2 separate regions of the Homo sapiens genome follow, and region 1 is linked to region 2. Evidence: fine-mapped expression QTL. Tissue or cell type: skeletal muscle. Region 2 holds a variant in brackets; the other region holds the start of a gene. All regions are shown on one strand. Distances are between the middles of the regions. Region 1 holds the start of FARP1 (FERM, ARH/RhoGEF and pleckstrin domain protein 1). Region 2 overlaps FARP1 (FERM, ARH/RhoGEF and pleckstrin domain protein 1).

What was found. PIP is the estimated chance that this variant, and not a neighbour inherited with it, causes the effect.
Region 1: it holds the start of FARP1, and the variant in region 2 is fine-mapped to the expression of FARP1 in skeletal muscle (GTEx, PIP 0.96).

What each region holds. Positions count from the first base shown.
Region 1 is chr13:98,138,733-98,148,374 of GRCh38, forward strand. It overlaps FARP1 (FERM, ARH/RhoGEF and pleckstrin domain protein 1), which reads left to right and starts at 4,362. Exons shown (of 27, transcript NM_005766.4): 1 at 4,362-4,760. LOC105370328 (a long non-coding RNA gene) reads right to left here and starts at 5,178. Exons shown (of 3, transcript XR_931670.4): 1 at 5,107-5,178. RefSeq lists silencers at 3,813-3,862, 4,103-4,412.
Region 2 is chr13:98,178,297-98,187,938 of GRCh38, forward strand. The region is part of intron 1 of FARP1 (FERM, ARH/RhoGEF and pleckstrin domain protein 1); the gene reads left to right. Among named protein-coding and RNA genes, the nearest start is that of RNF113B, 5.8 kb to the left of the region's middle. The variant T/C (reference allele first, on the strand shown) is at 4,484.

The DNA.
Region 1 (9,642 bases), 40 kb before region 2:
ACACTGACATCACTTCAAGTCTCAGCTGGAAAGGACTTGTGTATCACATGGTTGTTGGCAGAATTCAGTGCCTCCAGGGCTGTTGGAGTAAGGCTTCCCTCTGTTCCTTGCCACTGTGGGTCCTCCATAGGACATCTTACAACATGGCAGCTGGCTTCATCAAAGTGAGCAAATGAGAGGGCAAGACCGTATCAGTAAGAAGTTATGGGCCTGGCGCGGTGGCTCACGCCTGTAATCCCAGCACTTTGGGAGGCTGAGGCGGGTGGATCACGAGGTCAGGAGTTCAAGACCAGCCTGGCCAAGATGGTGAAACCCCGTCTCTACTAAAAATACAAAAATTAGCCGGGTGTGGTGGCACGCGCCTGTAATCCCAGCTACTCAGGAGGCTGAGGCAGAGAATTGCTTAAATCCAGGAGGCAGAGGTTGCAGTGAGCCGAGATTGCACCACTGCACTCCAGCCTGGACGACAGAGTGAGACTCCGTCTAAAAAAAAAAAAAGTTACAGTGCTCTGTGACCTAATCACAGAAGTGACACTGCCTTCCTTTTCTGTATTCTATCCATTAGCAGCGAGTCACTAGGTCACACTCAAGGCAGGGGGATTACACAGAATGAGCCCACCACAAATGCTACAAGCAGATCTCTTTCCGCCTTGGGTTTTAATACAGGCTGCCTCAGTTACTGTCAGTGCATACTGTCACGTCCAGAGAGCATCATCACCCTAAACCCAGGTTCTCCGAAAGGTGATGTGTTGAAGGGGAGGGAACTATGGAATAAAAAGTTGTGTTTCACTGTGACGTGTGATCTCTTAATATGAAAGATTTGCTTGCCCCCACACACTTTTGTATATGAGCAGAAAATTCCTGAAAGACTGTAAAAACTGTTGGGAAAATTATTTCTAAGAAGCGAGATTAGGGATGCAGGAAGGGTTCCTTCTAGGTTTCACTTCATACTCTTCTATACTGCTTAATTTTATCTTGACATGTACACACGTTTTACAGTAAAACAGTTAAAATTAATAAGAGGAATTGTTAAGCACAGGGTGATTCCTTAATCCAGAAAGATTTCTAAATAACCCATGCCACAGCTTGGGATAAAAGGGGGATCTAGGGGGATTATACATTTTTATATTCTGAAAGTTAAGCATAAATGACACACAATGACAAGGAAACGCCTAAGTTTTTCAGAAGTTGATTTTCCAGGTTCAGGATTTTCGAGGCCAGGTACCCCTGGCTTTTCAGGGAGAGGAATTTAAAAAGTGCTTTCTGGCCAGGCACGATGGCCTTATGCCTGTAATCCCAGAACTTTGGAAGGCCAAGGCAGGGGGATCACTTGAGCCTAGGAGTTCGAGGCTGCAGTGAGCTATGTTTGTGCCACTGCACTCCAGCCTGGGCAACAGAGCGAGACTCCTTTTTTTTTCTTTCTTGAGACGGAGTCTCGCTCTGTCGCCCGGGTTGGAATGCAGTGGTGTGGTCTCGGCTCACTGCACGCTCTGCCTCCCGGGTTCACGCCATTCTCCTGCCTCAGCCTCCCAAGTAGATAGGACTACAGGCGCCGGCCACCATGCCTGGCTAATTTTTTGTATTTTTAGTAGAGACGGGGTTTCACCGTGTTAGCCAGGATGGTCTTGATCTCCTGACCTCGTGATCTGCCTGCCTTGGCCTCCCAAAGTGCTGGGATTACAGGCTTGAGCCACAGCGCCCAGCCAAGACCCTCTCTTAAAAGAAACAGTACTTTCTATCAGGTTAGGTACCAACCGCGGAATGTTGGTGAGAGCTGGGAGGAAACGTAGGAAGTTCTCTAGTGTGACCCCACCGCTTTACAGCCTCTCTAACTAGATTCCCAGAACTGCCCCTTCTCCCCTCTCTTTTCCCCCATTAACTCTCTCCCCATGGGCTCCTGCCCTCAGCCTGCAAACCTCAGAACGGCTCCTTTAAAAGTCACCTTCACAAATGTTGATAATGTTGAGATAAGGCAACATGGGATATTATGTATTATCATATTGATTAATATGATCAATATATTATGTGTTATGATCATAAATAGTTTTAAGATCACAACTAAATCTAATTCTAGACATACAAAGACTATGAAAGAAATGCTGTAACATGTAGAAAATGTCGGTCTTGCAAAGAGAGTGACTGGGAAAATGTCACTTTTCTAATTTTCTGCGCTTTCTATGATTTTTTGCTTTTATTATTTTTATGATTTTTTTTTTGAGATGGAGTCTCACTTTGTTGCCCAGGCTGGAGTGCAATGGCACGATCTCGGCTCACTGCAACCTCTGCCTCCCGGGTTCAAGCAATTCTCATGCCTCAGCCTCCCGAGTAGCTGGGATTGCAGGCGCGCACCACCACGCCCAGCTAATTTTTGTATTTTCAGTAGAGACGAGGTTTCCCCATGCTGGCCAGGCTGGTTTACAAGTTCCTGACCTCAGGTGATCCACCTGCCTCAGCCTCCCAAAGTATTGGGATTACAGGAGTGAGCCACCGCGCCCGGCCTAATTTTTTCCTTTTAGTTGGGAGGTATGACATAGCACTTTGCTACTACGTGTAGTCCTTGGACCAGCAAGTAACACCTGAGAGCTTGTTAGAAACAGTCTCAGACTTACTGAATCAGAATCTGCATTCCAACAAGATTCCCTGGTGATTCAGGTATACACTAGAGTTTAAAAAGCCGCCTACAGCAACTGTTCTCAAACCTGGCTACACACTGGAATCACCTGCGGAACTTTACTGATGCCTGGGTTAGAATCTTTATATATTTGGCTGGGGTGCAACCAGGGTGTTGTTTTTTAATCGCAGATGATTCCATGAGTTTGAGACCCACTGTCCTAACACTGTGATCCTCCAAGTGTGATCCCAGGACCAGAGCAACATCACTATCTGGGAATTTGTTAGAAATGCAAACTCTCAGGCCCCACCCCAAACCTACTGAATCGGCAGCTCTGGGGATGGAGCCTGACAGTCCTTTATCCCTGCAGGCGATTCAGATGCTTGCTAAGGTTTCATTAGGTAGGTCGGGGATGCGGCCCAAGAATGTTCATTTCTTGACGTTTCCAGGGGCTGCTGGTGGTGGTCGTGGTCTGAGAACCACACTTAGAGAATCACGAGCAGAAAAAAATCTGATCTGTGACACACAGCTGGTTGGGCTGACAGAGCAAAGCCTCAAACCCACCATTTCTTCTCTTCAACCACAGACCACCAAATCTGCAAGTATTACATCTCTGCTCCTCCCCAGGAGCTGCCCACAAGCACCCCCTACTTCCAAGACCCCTGTTCTTGTCTCAACCCGCCCTTCTATCAGGGTCCCTACACTCCACTTCTGCCCAGCTCCTGTCCAGCTGTGAGTTCACTTGAGGCCTCTCCCGTGAAATCTGCCCTCTCGGTCTGAGGTCAGGGAACTCCTGTAAGACGCAAAAGGCCCACGGTTCTGAGCCAGTGGCCTCCGAAGGCCGGAATCCGCTAGCCCCGGGTCTGGCAGAACGTCACTTGCTGCGCCCTAGGCCTCTTCCCGCCACGCTTAGAGAGAGGGACTGGAGGCTCAGAAGGGGGAAGAGAAGGTAACGCGGCAGCTGCTGGGTGGGGACGGTGACTGTGCCCCTAGATCGCTGCCTCCTGGGTCCTGAATCTTGCTCCCCGCTCCGTAGAGTTCCCGAAACCCCGAAGGCTCTCAAGCACCGCAAGCCACTCCTAACCTCCCCCACGCCATTCCCCAAGGGCACTGTCCCCCGAGGCTGGGCGGGCGGGAACTGTCATGGGATTCGCTCGGGCGGAGGGCGCTGGGCCAGGACGTGGGCGGGCGCGGGGTGGCCGCCGCTCCCCCAAGCTTAAGTCCCGCGCAGCCCGGGGTGGTGCCGGAAGCCCGTGCCTGTGGCTCCGGGGGAGGGGAGGGCTCGGTGGGTCCCTGAAGACTGTCCTCCCCGCGCGACGTCGCAGGCGAAGCAGCCCCAGGCAGGACCTCAAAAAGCGACCTGCAGAGTCCGAGCCCCTGACCGCCCGCCTGCCGCTCCCGGCTTCGCCGTGCACACGTCTCCCGCTCTCCCCGGTTCGTTTTTCGCCACAGCTGCTGGATTCGCGTCTCGCCAGTGGCGCTCCCCGCGCTGCATTAGGTAGCGCCGCGCGGAGCCCGGCCCTGGCCGGAAGCCCAAGAGAGGCGCAGATCCCCGGCGGCGCGCTGGGCTCGGGAGGCCCCTGGGCGCACCTGCCCGGGCGGAGCGGAGCGGGGCGGGGCGGGCGCAGGGCGCGGGCCCGGACGCTGGAGGGGGCTGTGGCTCTCCCGCGTCCCCGCTGCTCGGGCTGCGCGGCGCCCGCCTCCCCCCGCCGAGGGGCCGGCCCAGACCCGGGGAGGGGCGGTGGCCACTGCACTTCCCGCTCGCCGGCCTCAGAGGCGGCGGGTCCGGCGCGGGCGCAGCGGTGCGGGCGCTCGGCTGGGGCGCGGGGCGGGGACGCGGCCGCTGCCCGCTTTGCGCCGCTCCTCCCTGCGCGAGTAGCGCTGGCCCCGGCGTCGAGGCGGCCATGGCGACCCGGAGCCCGCTCCCCACCCACCCCGCCTGCTCCGCCCTCCCCTCCGCCCCGCGCCACCTTTGATGGCTCGGACCTCAGCCGGCCACCGCCAGCCCTGCTCGCGCGCCCGCGCCGCCGCCGCCCGCGGGTATTAATAGCCGGCGCCGCCGCGCCCTCGGCCGCCGGGGGCTTGGGAGCCGCCGATCCCGGAGCCCGAGCCGGGAGAGGGAGCCGCCGCAGCCGCCGGCGCTGTGGAGGTAGGAGGCGCGCGGTGAACAATGACCGCGGCGGGAGGGCGGGGGCCGGCGGGGTCCGGGCCGCGGGCGGCAACTTGTGCGAGTCCAGGCTCCCGCAGCGCACGGCCGCGGCTGCGGGCGAAGGTGGGCGCGTGGTCCCCGAGGTCCTGCCCTGCGCAGTCGGGCGGCGGGTCGGGCCCGGGCAGCCCCGGCCACCATCGCAGGAGCTCGGGGGCCTCGGGGCTCCGGGCTGCCCCCTGCGCCCCTCTCCCCTCACCTCCGCCGACGTCGGGCTGCGGGGCTCCGCGCCGGTCCCCGCTCGCCTCCCCCGACCCCGGCGCCCTTCCCCCGTTTCCTTCCGTCCTACCCGCCCGCTGACAGCGCTGGACGCCGCTTCCGGACCTCGGGCCGCAATCTCGGCCCCTGAGGCCGGTTGCGGGCCGGGGAGGTGGCCGCTGGCGCGGATGCCGCCGGGTGCCCGCCGCTCGCCCACGCGCGGCGCGAGGGTTCCCGGCGGGTGACAAAGAGGAACACACCCTCTGCCCAAGTTAGATTTGTGTCTCTCTTTACTGTCTGCCTTTATGCAGGGCAAAGTTTTTTTTATTTTTTATTTTTTAAAGCAAAGGACAGATTGCTTTGCGGCGAGTATTTCCAAACAACTTCTGATTGTGGTTTTACGATTCAAGTTCCGGAAACTTTAGCTGTGTGATCCGGCTGGACCCCGGAGACTCTGTGTGTGTGTGTGTGTGTGTGTGTTTTATTTGAGGGGGGGAAATACGAATTCCCTGTAATGAGTCTGGATCTCGTTTGTGGCAGCTGGAGGCCAGCGGCTGTTGGGGATCGAGTAGGGTTCCCCAGAAAGGAGGGAGCTGAGGCTCACAAAGAAGCGAGGCCCTGGTATCTGATCAGTTCGTGGAGACGTGGGAGAGCCTGCTTGTCATCTGGAACAGTTTAGCAGCCTCGGCCTCCCTGTCTCTCCCAGCCCTGGGGAGTACCGGTGGCCTCTGGCCGTTTCATTATATTGTTGTTAAGGCTCTTCTCCTTGTCAGTTTACCAGGTTTGACCGCCCAGCCCTGGTCTCTGCGTGGAAACCCCCGGGGGCCCCTCTCCTTCCAGTAGGCAACATCTTCAGAGCCAAACCCTGGCCTAGCACTGGCTTCTGTTTAATGTGCTTTGCACGTGGTGACTTGCGGAGCCCATTTCAGAACATCCTCCAGCATTGTCTTGCTTTTCTTATTCAGTCTGAACAAGGAGAGGAGAAAGAAACATCTTTCTGGTCCTGAAAGCTTTAGGGAGAGTTGCCTTAAAAATTGGCTTCGTTGTTCCGGAGACTTTAGGAGGGCCCTGCTTCATCCTATCTTTGGCTTTCTCCCTCCTTCCACAGTGTTCTCGTAGGGGGTTTATTCTCAGTCTTTCGGATGGGTTGGTCTCCAGGATGTGACAGTTTCTGACAGTGTGCTTCATAAGTGGGTACAGCTAGCACATGGCTCACTTTATATTCCTGCAGCATCGTTCTGCAGCAAGGCATCAATATTGGAGTTACTCCAAGCACAACGAAGCGTTTGTGTTTTTAGAATGTCTGGCTAATAGATCTGCTTCTGGGTAAAATAAATAGAAGCATTATTGGGCAATGGCTGCTTTACTGAGGGAATTGTTGGTGGAGACAGTGAGTAGATGCCTTCCTAGCCCAGCGCCTCCCAGAATCTCTTACTTGTTTCTTTTATGTGAATGGGAAACTGGAAACCCTCGGTGTGGAGGTGGCTGTGCCTCCTAGGGGCAGATTCTATGGTGCACCACCCCGCCCCCGTTACTTGGGGTGTGGTGTTTCATTGAGAAGTTCTGTCACTGTGGGAATCCTTTTGAAGCGTGGTTTCTAATGCCCCCTTTCACATTGATATTCTCTTCCTTTAATTGATACAGGGATGGATTTATTCCTTGCTTCATAATAGAATGTTAACTTTACTCTGTAGCCAGACTTATCAAAGAAGATCTTAAAATAATTATCCTGGACAAGTTTCTTACTGGGTTATTGCATTCACCTCAGAATTATCCAGAGTTTACAAGGAACCTGGAGGAACGTTTTTGTTTCACTTTTCGTTAAAGAAACTGTCCAAGGGGGCTGGGCATGGTGGCTCACACCTGTAATCCCAGCACTTTGGGAGACCGAGGCGGATCACTTGAGATCAGGATTTCCCAGCCTGGCTAATATGGTGAAACCCTGTCTCTACTAAAAATACAAAAATTAGCCAGGGGTGGTAGCAGGTGCCTGTAATCCCAGCTGCTCAGAGGCTAAGCCAGGAGAATCGCCTGAACCCAGGAGGCGGAGGTTGTAGTGAGTTGAGATTGGGCCACTGCACTCCAGCCTGGGCAACAGAGTGAGACTCTGTCTCAAAAAAAAAAAAAAAAAAGAGAAAAAAGGAACTGCCCAAGGAAATTGTTTTGTTTTGTTTTTTGGTTAAAGATACAAATAAGATAGCATTGAAAGGGTTAGTTTTTTTTAAACAGTGAAGCTTATACTCATTTAATTTATTGAACACCTAAGAGCTTAATTCATTTGGAAAATTGTATATATTTATGAGGAGGATGCTTGTGATAAACATCAGAAAAAAACAACTCTTTTCATCCTGGACGGGATTAGAGAATACTAGAGAAAGGATAAAAGGCTGGTTTCTGCAGGCAGAATATGCTTAGGAAAAATGGCATTGTGATTTTCCCAGAGGATAAGAGAAATTCTGTGGATTTGTAAGTACTGTACTTGCCTGATTTTTTTTTTTGAGATGGAGTTTTGCTCTTGTTTCCCAGGCTGGAGTGCAATGGCGCAATCTCGGCTCACTGAAACCTCTGCCTCCCAGGTTCAAGCGATTCTCCTGCCTCAGCCTCCCCAGTAGCTGGGATTACAGGCATTTGCCGCCATGCCCAACTAATTTTCTGTTTTTAGTAGAGACGGGGTTTCTCCATGTTGGTCAGGCTGGTCTTGAACTCCTGACCTCAGGTGATTTGCCCGCTTCGGCCTCTCAAAGTGCTGGGATTACAGGCGTGAGTCACAGAGCCTGGCCTTGCCTGATGTTTTGATAGCATGGTGGACTGGACATTTTAAAGAAGCCCTTTGTAACTGGCCTTGCTTATTGCAGATAACTGCTTAGTGTTTTTGAGAAATGCACTTTCCTCACCAGCTGAAGGTGCTACAGATAAGAGGGGCAGGTATAGTCCTGTAATGCAGGTGCTAAAGTCTTTCTACTTTGGAAGGACAGGCATTCCCTGTATTGGTTACCGTTTGCCTGGGAAGGGAGGCTGTGGGGTTTTAGGCTCTCGTGGCAGTCTCTCTCCTGTTGTTTGGTGCTTTTGATTGAAAGGAGCCTCTCCAAGCCTGGCTATTGAATGGGAAGCAGCGGATCAACTTCTTTTCTTGTCTTTTAGTGTCAGAGTTTATTCTGTGGTGGTACTGGGTCACAGTCCTTTCTCTCTGTTTCACCCATGGCAACTTAGGTAGGCTGTTACCTCCTTAACCACTTCCACATGGCCAGGAAGATCAGAGCCAAACGGTTTTCATTCAAATTACTTGAAATACTGATTTCTCCAGTCCTGTTCTGCCAAATGCAGCCTTTGTTTTCAATCAAGAAGCCCCCAGAAAACGTGTATTTAAAACTGGCAAAACTTTTTATAGGATGCCCTTGCCCTGGTTTGAATTAGTTAAAAATGTTTGGCCAAGTGGATACTTTGAGCAAAAGTGGATAATGGATACATTACTAAAATATCATGCTCGAAGCTTTTGATACTAATCCGGCGAGACTGAAACTGAGGCATGCTCAGTGCTGCCTGCAAACTGTTAACTCAGATTTTAAGTTTTCTTAGTTTAATGTGGGATGGAAATTATGAACTTCAAGACTTGCAATTAATGTGGGAATTCATCATTTACACTGAATGAATTTCATATGTAAAACTGTCATATTTGTTCACACATTAAAAAAAAGAAGAGCCTCAGGCCACACTAGACTGCCTTTAACTCTCAATTATGATAATAACCTCTGACCACAAGAGTAACTTCACTTTATGTGCAGACTTTTGACGAAATGCTTTGCATAAATTTATTATCAATTAGAAGACTTAAAAATCCAGTATTATGATGACTTTCAGTTTTTGTTCTTGTTCATTCAGGATCTAGTATAGTATCTGAATATAGCAAACCCTTGGTAAATTATTGTGTTCTGTTTTCTTTTTGAAAAAAACTCGAGGCTGGAGTGCAGTGGTGATCATGGCTCATTGCAGCCTTGACCTCTTGGGCTCAAGCAATCCTTTCATCTCAGTCTCCCGAGTAGCTGTGACTACAGACACATGCCATCACGCCCAGCTAATTTTTTCTTTAAAAAAATTTTTCTTAGAGAGTCTCACCGCTATGTTGCCCAGTCTGGTAAATCCTTGTTGAATGAATAATAAATCCAGTTTTTACCATCCCTTCAAATTAGTCTTTAGGGTTTTTAAAGGAAACTTGTTATTAGAATTGATAGATTGCAGTTCTGGCAGTTTGATATTTGATTTTGTTTTCATTTCATTCTAATTTAGCAATTGAATCCTTAAAGCTAAGTCAGATTGTAAAAAGACAGAGGTTCCTTTTCAAAAAAAAAGACAATAAGGTGCGGTGGCTCACGCCTGTAACCCCAGCACTTAGGGAGGCCAAGGCGGGCGAATCATCTGAGGTCAGGAGTTCAAGACCAGCCTGACCAACATGGAGAAACCCCGTCTCTACTAAAAATACAAAATTAGCCAGGCGTGGTGGCGCGTGACTGTAATCCCAGCTACTCGGGAGGCTGAGGCAGGAGAATCGCTGGAACCCGGGAGGCGGAGGTTGTGGTGAGCTGAGATTACGCCATTGTACTCCAGCCTGGGCAACAAAAGTGAAACTCCG
Region 2 (9,642 bases):
GCAATTCTCCTGCCTCAGCCTCCTGAGTAGCTGGGATTACAGGTGTGTGCCACCACACCCAGCTAACTTCTGTGTTTTTAGTAGCGACAGGGTTTCACCATGTTGGCCAGGCTGGTGTGGAACTCCTGACCTCAGGTGATCCACCCACCTTGGCCTCCTAAAATGTTGGTATTACAGGCGTGAGCCACTGCACCCCGCCTTCAAATATTTTTAACCCTTTTTTTTCTTGAGTTTATCTTCAAGTTGTGAAATAATTCATTTATATAATGTAAATGGATTCTAGTTCTTATTTAGCCAGTGCATGTCATAAAGTGTTACATGCAATTTCTTTTTCTAATTTAGGTTCTATCTCTTTACTTACTAGAATGGAAGATGAGATTCAGCTCACTTGTAGTGCCCCCAAAACACTGGCTGCTGTGGGATGAGGGAGAAGTTGTGTGGGTCTCTCTTCCTAGACACCAAGGCATCCTCAGCTGTTGGAAATGTGATGAATAAGCTTACAGTGTAAAGAACAATTCATCATTTGTCAGTTTTCTCTTAGGATAGTAATTCTAGATTTTTCTTCAACTGTTATCATCCCATCTTTCATGTTGGAAGCTTTTCTAAAATACTTGGTTATCTCCAGCTGTTTATACTTCAGAGTGAGGTGCCTAAAAGCTGGCTGGAATCCATCGGTATTGTTGGGCTTGTACACTGGACTGTCCTTTGTGTGATTCAGTTGGAACCCATCTTTTTTCTTGGAGACCCCCAGATGTTGGTGTCCATATTAGTCCGTTTTCACGCTGCTGATAAAGACACACCTGAGACTGGGTAATTTACAAAAGAAAAAGGCTTAATGGACTTACATTTCCATGTGGCTAGGGAGGTCTCACAATCCATGGTAGAAGGTGAAAGGCATGTCTCGCATGGCAGCAGACGAGAACAGAATGAGAACCAAGTGAAAGGGGTTTGCCCTTATAAAACCATCAGATCTCATGGGATTTATTCACTACCACAAGAACAGTATGGGGGAAACTGCCCCCATGATTCAGTTATCTCTGGTAACTGGGTCTCTCCCACAACACAAGAGAATTTTGGGAGCTACCATTCAAGATTTGGGTGGGGACATAGCCAAACCATATCAGTGTCCATAGGTCTTTTCTGCTGGGTTCTCGAGTTTCTACAGAGAAGACTTATCTCACATTCCGCTGTGGGGTGTGATCTTTGCTGCCAGAATTCTGTGATAAGAGCTGTAGAAGTGGGCTGGGAAGGGAAGGCCTTATAATTTGGGGTATAAACTTTGACTTGGCCTGGCATGGTGGCTCACACCTATAATCCCAGCACTTTGGGAGGCTGAGGCAGGTGGATCACGAGGTCAGGAGATCGAGACCATCCTGGTCTACCCCATCTCTACTAAAAATAGAAAAAAAAATTAGCTGGGCGTGGTGGCGGGTGCCTGTAGCCCCAGCTACTCGGAAGGCTGAGGCAGGAGAATGGCGTGAACCCGGGAGGCAGAGCTTACAGTGAGCCGAGATCAAGCCACTGCACTCCAGCCTGGGTGACTGAGCAAGACTCCATCTCAAAAAAACAAAACAAAACAAAACAAAAAACTTTTGACTTAATTCCTCATTTTTAGTAAAGCATCTGATTCCCACCTTTGGTTGTTCCCGGGCCCTTTGAGCTTAGGCCCTCCTAGATTCAGCCTCCACAGAAGAGATATCTCCTGCTTCTGCCGGGCTAGGGAAAGGGTAGCCAGGCTAGGGAAAGGCTAGGGAAAGGCTGCATGGGGTGGGAGATTGTGTTAGTTTTGCATTGCTATAAAGGAATGCCTGAGGCTAGGTAATTTATAAAGAAGAGAGGATTAATTGACTTGTAATTCTGTAGGCTGTACAAGCAGCATGGCGTTGGTATCTGCTTCTGGTGATGGCCCCAGTAAACTTCCAGTTGATCACAGTGGAAGGCAAAGGGGGAGCAGGCTGTGTCACATGGCAAGAGTGGGAGTGAGAGTGGGGAGGGGCCACGTACTTCTAAACAACCAGAACAAGATCCCTGGGTGAGCACCCAGGAAATGGTGCTAAACCACTCATGAGGCATCCACCCCCATGATCCAGTCACCTCCCACCAGGCCCTACCTCCAACACTAACCACATTTCAACATGAGATTTGGAGGGGACAGACATCCAAACCGTATCAGAAAATTTTCAGATTCTCAGCCAGTCTTCTTGTGTGGAGCCATATCTGTTTCCAGTGATACTTGATTCTTGCAGTTCCTGGGATTTGTCTTGAAATTGGCATGCTGCTGCTTGTCATCTCCCTCCACAGCCTTCAGTTTCAGCCTTCTTCCAAGTTAGTTGAGATTTTTCAGCTCACTTTATTTCTTCTAAAATATTATTGATGTTCTTGTTTTCTCTGGTGTCTCTTTCTTCTGGCTCCTTTTGTGGGAATCTGCCTTTGTAAAGTAATGTTTATCATTTTAGTGGGATTTTGGGAGGGAATAGGGGTGAATGCCTGAGTGCAGTCTGCTGTGTTGAATGAGGAATGGTAGTGGGCTGTCTTCACTTGATAAGTATTTTCCCCTGTTCCTTAGTATTTCTCCATAATGTGCATTTTAATGCCTGCATAATGATCAATTGTATGAGTCTATGATGCCTTATTGTCCTAATACTCTGTTGTTAGATTATGTGTTTCCTCATTTATATACCTTTCCCTGTGTTTACATTTGTTTTCTTAGGGTTGATTCCTACAAACAGAATTACAGAGTTTAAGCATTTTTAAGTCTTTTTTTTTTTAAGACAGAATTTTGCTCTTGTTGCTTTCTGAAAGAGTTGTATTGTATGTACATCCACCAGACATGCATGAGTATGGCCGTTTCATTGCAGATAGCACTTCTCCCTGCTGGTTTAGGTCCACACATGCCTACTAAGTGAAGGAAAAAATTGGGATGAACCAAATGAACTTCAGTAATTCTGTCAGCTCACATGTTAACGTAGCTTGGCTGTCTGAGGTTACATCCTGGCGCTGTGACCGACAGCAAATGACCTAACTGCCCTGGATTTCAGTTTTATCCCCTGCAAAGTGGGGTATAAGAGGAAGAATAATAAGTGAATAGACTTAAGTTTAGATTTTTGCCTGGCTGGCAGCGATGGAGAAGAGCAAAACCAATAAAGTCAGTTTCTTAGGTAGTAATGAAAAGATTGTTCTTTATTATTAAAAAGTGACTTGTTTGGGAAGAAGTGATACATTCTCATTATAAAAAAAATACAAAAAAGTAAAAAGAAGAAATGAAAAACCTCACCCTAAATCTTACCATTTAGAAATAATATTATTTATTTATTTATTTATTTATTTATTTATTTATTTATTTATTTGAGAGAGAGAGAGAGAGAGTCTCACTGTTGCCCAGGGGTGTGTGGCGCAATCACAGTTCAGTGTAACCTCAAACTCCTAGGCTCAAGCGATCCTCCTGCCTTGGCCTCCCAAAGTGCTGGGATTATAGACATGAGCCACTGTGCCTGGCCAATGATGTTGGTAACATTTTTTGAGCCCTGTCTAGAACTTGCCATGGTCATGGGGTCTTATCACACATGGTATTTAATACTTAAAGATGTAAAATAAAATAGACTTGAATTAAAGCAAAGGAAAAGAAACTAAAGCAAGATAGAAATGCTGACTTCATTGCAAGAGAGATTAGCGCTATCTTTTAGAAACTAAATTTATGACAAGATGATAAATAATAAATACTAAGAGATTAGAATAATTTCTTATAAACTATGAGTTTGTGAGACTCTCTCCTTTGAAAGCTAAAAAAAAAATAGAACTGACCTATGCTCCCCCTCTTTCCCAAGCTCCAAAATTTTATCAGTTAATTATGAATTTTACAGTGTGAAGGATTGTAACATTTCTATTCTAATAATGCCACAATTCCCATAGCTCTTTGACTTAGTCCCCTTTTAGGATGGATTCAGAACTTGTTAGTCTTTTTACTGTTTTTTTTTACCTTGCTTGAGTTTTAAATTTTGACTCATTGGTTGGTTCATTGTTTTATTTATTTAATCGATTTTATTTTTTGAGACAGGATCTTGCCCTGTCGCCCAGGCTGGAGTGCAGTGGTGCCATCATGGCTCACTGCTGCCTCACCCTCCTGGACTCAAGTGATCCTCCTATCTCAGCCTCCTGAGTAGCTGGGACTTACAGGCACACGCCCCCACACCTGGCTGATTTTTGTATTTTTTGTAGAGACTGAGTCTCGCCATATTGCCCAGGCTGGTCTCAAACTCCCGGGCTTTAGTGATCTACCTGCCTTGGCCTTCCAAAGTGCTGGGATTACAGGGGTAAACCCAGTGTGGCCGCATCCAGCCACATTATTTTATTTAGAGAAGCCCTGGTAGGTACTGTGTTCCTTGAGGTCTTAACACTTAAGGATAGCTGTTCCTTGCTTTTATATTTGAAGGACAATTTGGCCGAGTACCAAGGTCTTGGGCCACACGTTCTTGCCCTCAGAATT[T/C]CTTAGACATTGCTCCCATTCTTTTTTAGCACTGGATATTTCTGGAAGAGAAAGCTGAGGCTGGGTTAATGTTTCTTTCTTTTGCACATGACTAGCTTTTTCCATTGGATGTGCCCATGAGGTTCTCTGATTCTTTTTGAAGTTTAGAGTTTTACCAGCATTGCTTGGGCATTGGCTGTTTTATGTCACTTTCCTGGTATGTCCTATACCATAATATCTGTTGATTCAAGTCTGTCTTTATATCAGTAAAATTTTAAGATCCTTTAATATTTTTGCATATATTTTGAATGGTGCTCACTTTTTGGGAACCATAGTTGTTAGGTTTTATCTTCTTTGCCTTCTAAATCTAGCATCTATTCTTATTATCATTTGTGTATCTTTGTCCCTCTTGTTGTTCCTTTTTAGTAATTTTGAGTGATTTCCTTGTTTGTTCTCTGCCTCTGTTTACAGAAGCTTACACTATGTTTTACTGTAGTTGTGTGGCTTCCATTCTGGATATTTTTTTTTCTAGTCCATTTATTTCTTCAACTCTATCAGTCCATTTAAAATCTCTTAGATTGATGACTGTCAGTTCTTTGGAACTTCATATCTAGTCTCTGAGCTCCCCATTTTTAGAAGGACCATTTTATCTTTAATATTTTTGAGACAATGGAGGACTATTTTTTCTGAGCTCTTAGTCTGTTACCTTCGTTTTTCAGGCCCAGATTCCTGGGCATGGGACCTCTGCATCCACTTAAGGGTCCACGCTTGGACGAATGCTCCCGTCATTGTCTTGAAATTGTTAATAATTTCTGAACAGCGGGCACTGCATTTTTGTTATGCAGCAGCTTCTGTTGATTATTTTTACAAACGCACCTTATTAGCTGCCTTTGCCTGTGTTCTTATTCAGTGGTCGCTCATCTTTGAATGAGGCCGAGCTGTTTGCCGCAAAAACTGGTGTGGGGTATGCTGAGGACTGGAAGGCAGGGGTGGGGAGTGTTGTGAAACCTGCTCATACTCGCTGCCTCCACTGTCCTCCAAACAATTGTTATTTCTTTTACCTTGAGAATGATCCTCCTTCGGTTTTTGGCTTTTAGGAGGCTTGTGTGTCTCTCTCACAGCCAGTCCCCTTAGCGCCCTGGCTCTCTGAGGCTTGACATATGGTGGGCATGGCGGTTGTTCCCCCAGGCCCTTTCTTCACCCTCACTTTCCTTGTTAATCCAGGCCAGGTCATAGGTATTAAAAATGACATCCACATGGTTTCTCCTTCAGTTCCACCTTCCCAGTTAGATTTTAACTTTTAAAATACTTGAGAAGGGAGAGCAGTGTCAGACTCAAAAAGCCAGCAAGCATTGTTTTTTGTTTGTTTTTTTTTGAGATGGAGTTTTCACTCTTGTTGCCCAGGCCGGAGAGTGGTGGTGAGATCTCGGCTCACTGCAACCTCTGCCTTCTGGGTTCAAGCGATTCTCCTGCCTCAGCCTCCCAAGAAGCTGGGATTGTAGGCGCCTGCCACCCCACCCGGCTAATTTTTGTATTTTTAGTAGAGATGGGGTTTCACCGTGTTGGCCAGGCTGCTTTCGAACTCGTGACTTCAGGTGATCCACCTGCCTCCCAAAGTGCTGGGATTACAGGCATGAGCCACCACGCCCGGCTGCCTTTTAATGTGTCATTTTAATGTGTCATTTTAAAGTTCTGTGCTAATAAGGATGTAGGAGGTTATTTGATTTTTGGAAAATTGTTCATACTATATTAACATGTAAAGGTGCTTTATGAAACAGTATGTGGAGTGTGATTCACCTGTTGTTGCTTCTTAAGGAAGTACGACTCTACATTAAAAAATATTTGAAGGGAAAAAAATACCAAAATGCGATTGCCTGGATTCCTAATGTCCATCCTGCTTCCGCCTTTGGTGATGGTGTATAGCAGTGGCCAACTCCACAGCCTTTACATTTTCTCAGTGATCCTATGCTCTAAGAATTTGTGAGGGACTTGTTTTTAAAAAGATTGTTTCTAGTACCGTGTCTACTCTCTTTTGTGGATTAAAATAAATTCATTCTGATGTTTTTGGCAAATACTTCAAGTGTATTTTAAAATACATAATTTTATTGACAAGATACTTTGAACAGGGAAGAACCAGTTTCACAACCAGCTCTCTTGAAAAACAAAAACAAAACTCTAATTCATAGAGTTTGCCAGTTTCCGTGGTGTAAATATTTCCACCATGGCCAGTTGCAGGCTACCAACATGACATCATTGCACACAGAGTTAGGAAAAAGTGTGTGGTAGCACATTCCTATGTAGTATTGTTACCATCCAGATGCAGCAGGCAAAATAACCTCACAATCACAGATAGATAAAAGTAAAATGTAAAATAATTGGGAAGTGATGATTTTTGAGTATTCATTACTTCTGTAAAATTTATGCTTAATAAATATTGATATAATTTATTTTAATCCATATCTTTATATAATAACTGGCTGGTAAAAATTCCTGAAAATTTAACAGCAGGTCCCCATGAGTTGATACAAAAGCAGTATACCGCTGGAAAGAGCCCTTGAATTTTTAGAAAGGGCTTAACAGGGCAAGTCAAGAAAGTGAAGCATGCAGGCGTTGGGATTGGTAAGATAAAGCTCTCTATGGTTGGTTCAGGTGTCGTTTTGTCCTAGATCTTTATGTTGGGGGGGCTTCCTTTTCTGTTTAAGGTTCCTCGTGATCAGAACACCCATAGAAAACTTGGGGAGATAAGCAAGTGCTCTGCTCTTTAGTATGTAATTTTCTTGGCATTCGAAATGGGATGCTACCTTTCTTGATACCATTCCTGGGAAGCAGCATAGGTTCCTTTAGAAACCTTTTAACACATACCAGGTGATTTTGATTCTGATAATTAGTTTTTTTTTTTTTTGGCTGTGGTGGTAAAATATGCATAAAATTTGATGGGTTTGTTTGTTTGTTTTTTTGAGATGGAGTCTCTCTCTGTCGCCCAGGCTGGAATGCAGTGGCACGATCTCAGCTCACTGCAACCTCCGCCTCCTGGGTTCAAGCAGTTTTCCTGCCTCAGCCTCCCAAGTAGCTGGGATTATAGGTGCGTGCCACCATGCCCGGCTAATTTTTGTAATTTTAGTAGAGACAGGGTTTTTCCATGTTGACTAGGCTGGTCTCGAACTCCTGACCTCAGGTGATCCGCCTGCCTCGGCCTCCCAAAGTGCTGAGATTATAGGCGTGAGCCACCGCGTCCGGCCACATTTACTGTTTTGATCATTTTCAAGCATGCAGCACAGTGGTATTCAGTGCACTCACATTATTGTGCCACCATCACCATCATCTATCTGCAGAACGTTTTCTTTTTCTTTTCTTTTTTTTTGAAACGGAGTTTCGCTCTTGTTGCCCAGGCTGGCTGGAGTGCAATGGCACGATCTTGGCTCACCGCAACCTCTGCCTCCCTGGTTCAAGCGATTCTCCTGCCTCAGCCTCCTGAGTAGCTGGGATTACAGGCATGAGCCACCACGCCTGGCTAACTTTTTGTATTTTTAGTAGAGATGGGGTTTCTCCATGTTGATCAGGCTGATCTTGAACTCCCAACTTCAGGTGATCCACCCACCTCGACCTCCCAAAGTGCTGGGATTACAGATGTGAGCCACCGCGCCTGGCGCTCCAGAACATTTTCCATCTTTCTTCTCTCTCTCCCCTGCCCCTGGTAACTCTTCTACTTTCTGTCTGTCTGAATTTCCCTGTTCTGGATATCTCATGTAAGGAGCATCATACAGTAGTCATCCTTTTGTGACTGGCTAATTTCACTTAGCATAATCTCTTCGTGCTTCATGTTGTAGCATGCGTCAGAATTTCCTTCTTTTTAAAGGCTGCGTAATAATCCATTGTATGTATATCCCATGTTTTGTTTATCCATCTATTTGTTGCTTCTACGTTTTGGCTGTTGTGAATAAAGATGATATGGGCCGGGCGTGGTGGCTCACACCTGTAATCCCAGCACTTTGGGAGGTCGAGGTGGGTGGATCAGTTGAGGTCAGGAGTTCAAGAGTAGCCTGGCCAACGTGGTGAAACTCCATCTCTACTAAAAATACAAAAATTAGCTGGGCGTGGTGGCATGTGCCTGTAATCCCAGCTACTCAGGAGGCTGAGGCGTAAGAATTGCTTGAACCCAGGAGTTAGAGGTTGCAGTGAGCCAAGATCGCGCCACTGCACTCTAGCCTGGGAGATGGAGCGAGATTCTGTCTCAAAAAAAAAAAAAAAAAAAAAAAAAAAGCCATTAACGTGCACATACAGATATATGTGTTCAAATCCCTCCTTCCATTTCTTTTGAGTTTATACCCAGAAGTGGAATCACTGTATCGTATGGCAATTCTATATTTAATTTTTTGAGGAATTGCCATTCCATTTTCTACAGCTCATTCATTATTTTTTGACCTGGAAACTAATGTATCTTTCCAAAATGATTGCACTGACTTATGTCCCTTCCCTTGCAGGTAGAATGTCTTTCTGTGAGCCTCCTCTTTGGTGATGGTGTTCTTTCAACATATCTCATATTTGAATGTTTACACTGTAATGTGATAGCCCAATTAAGAGTGGAGATGCTGTCACATAAGGCACCGTATGATAAGTGTCAGAAGAGAAACACAAGATGCTTTGAGCTCCCAAATAGAGGGGAATGGAAAAAGTTTCATGGCATTTGAGATAATCTTTGATAAAGGAGCAGAATGTTGGCAGGTGGAGATGTGGGGGAGGAGGATCCAGGCAGTGGTAAGGAAGGGGGCTCTGTGTCCTGGGGAGAAATAGAGAAAGTCTTGGAAAGTAAGTTCATGTCACCTTACAGGGCCTTGAATGTCAGGCGAAATAACTTATTCAACTTCGTAGGTGATGAGAGCTGTGGAAGGCTTTGAGCAGGAGAGCAACATGGTTATAGCTGAGTGGAAATCATTTGAGTCCAGAAGTTGCTGGATTACCATATGGAGCTGGAGACTATAGCTGCAGAAATCGTGTGGCTGTTGAAATAATCTAGTGGAGAGGGCTGTTGGGGACATGTACAGTTAGTTATCTTATTTTCATTTTCCTCCTGTTGATGTAATTTCTGTGACCAGAGTCTTGTTCTATTTTAATCTGCAAAGCATGCTGTTCAGTATGACATGTAATAAATGTTGAACCCTCTTTGGGGAGTCAGTCAATCA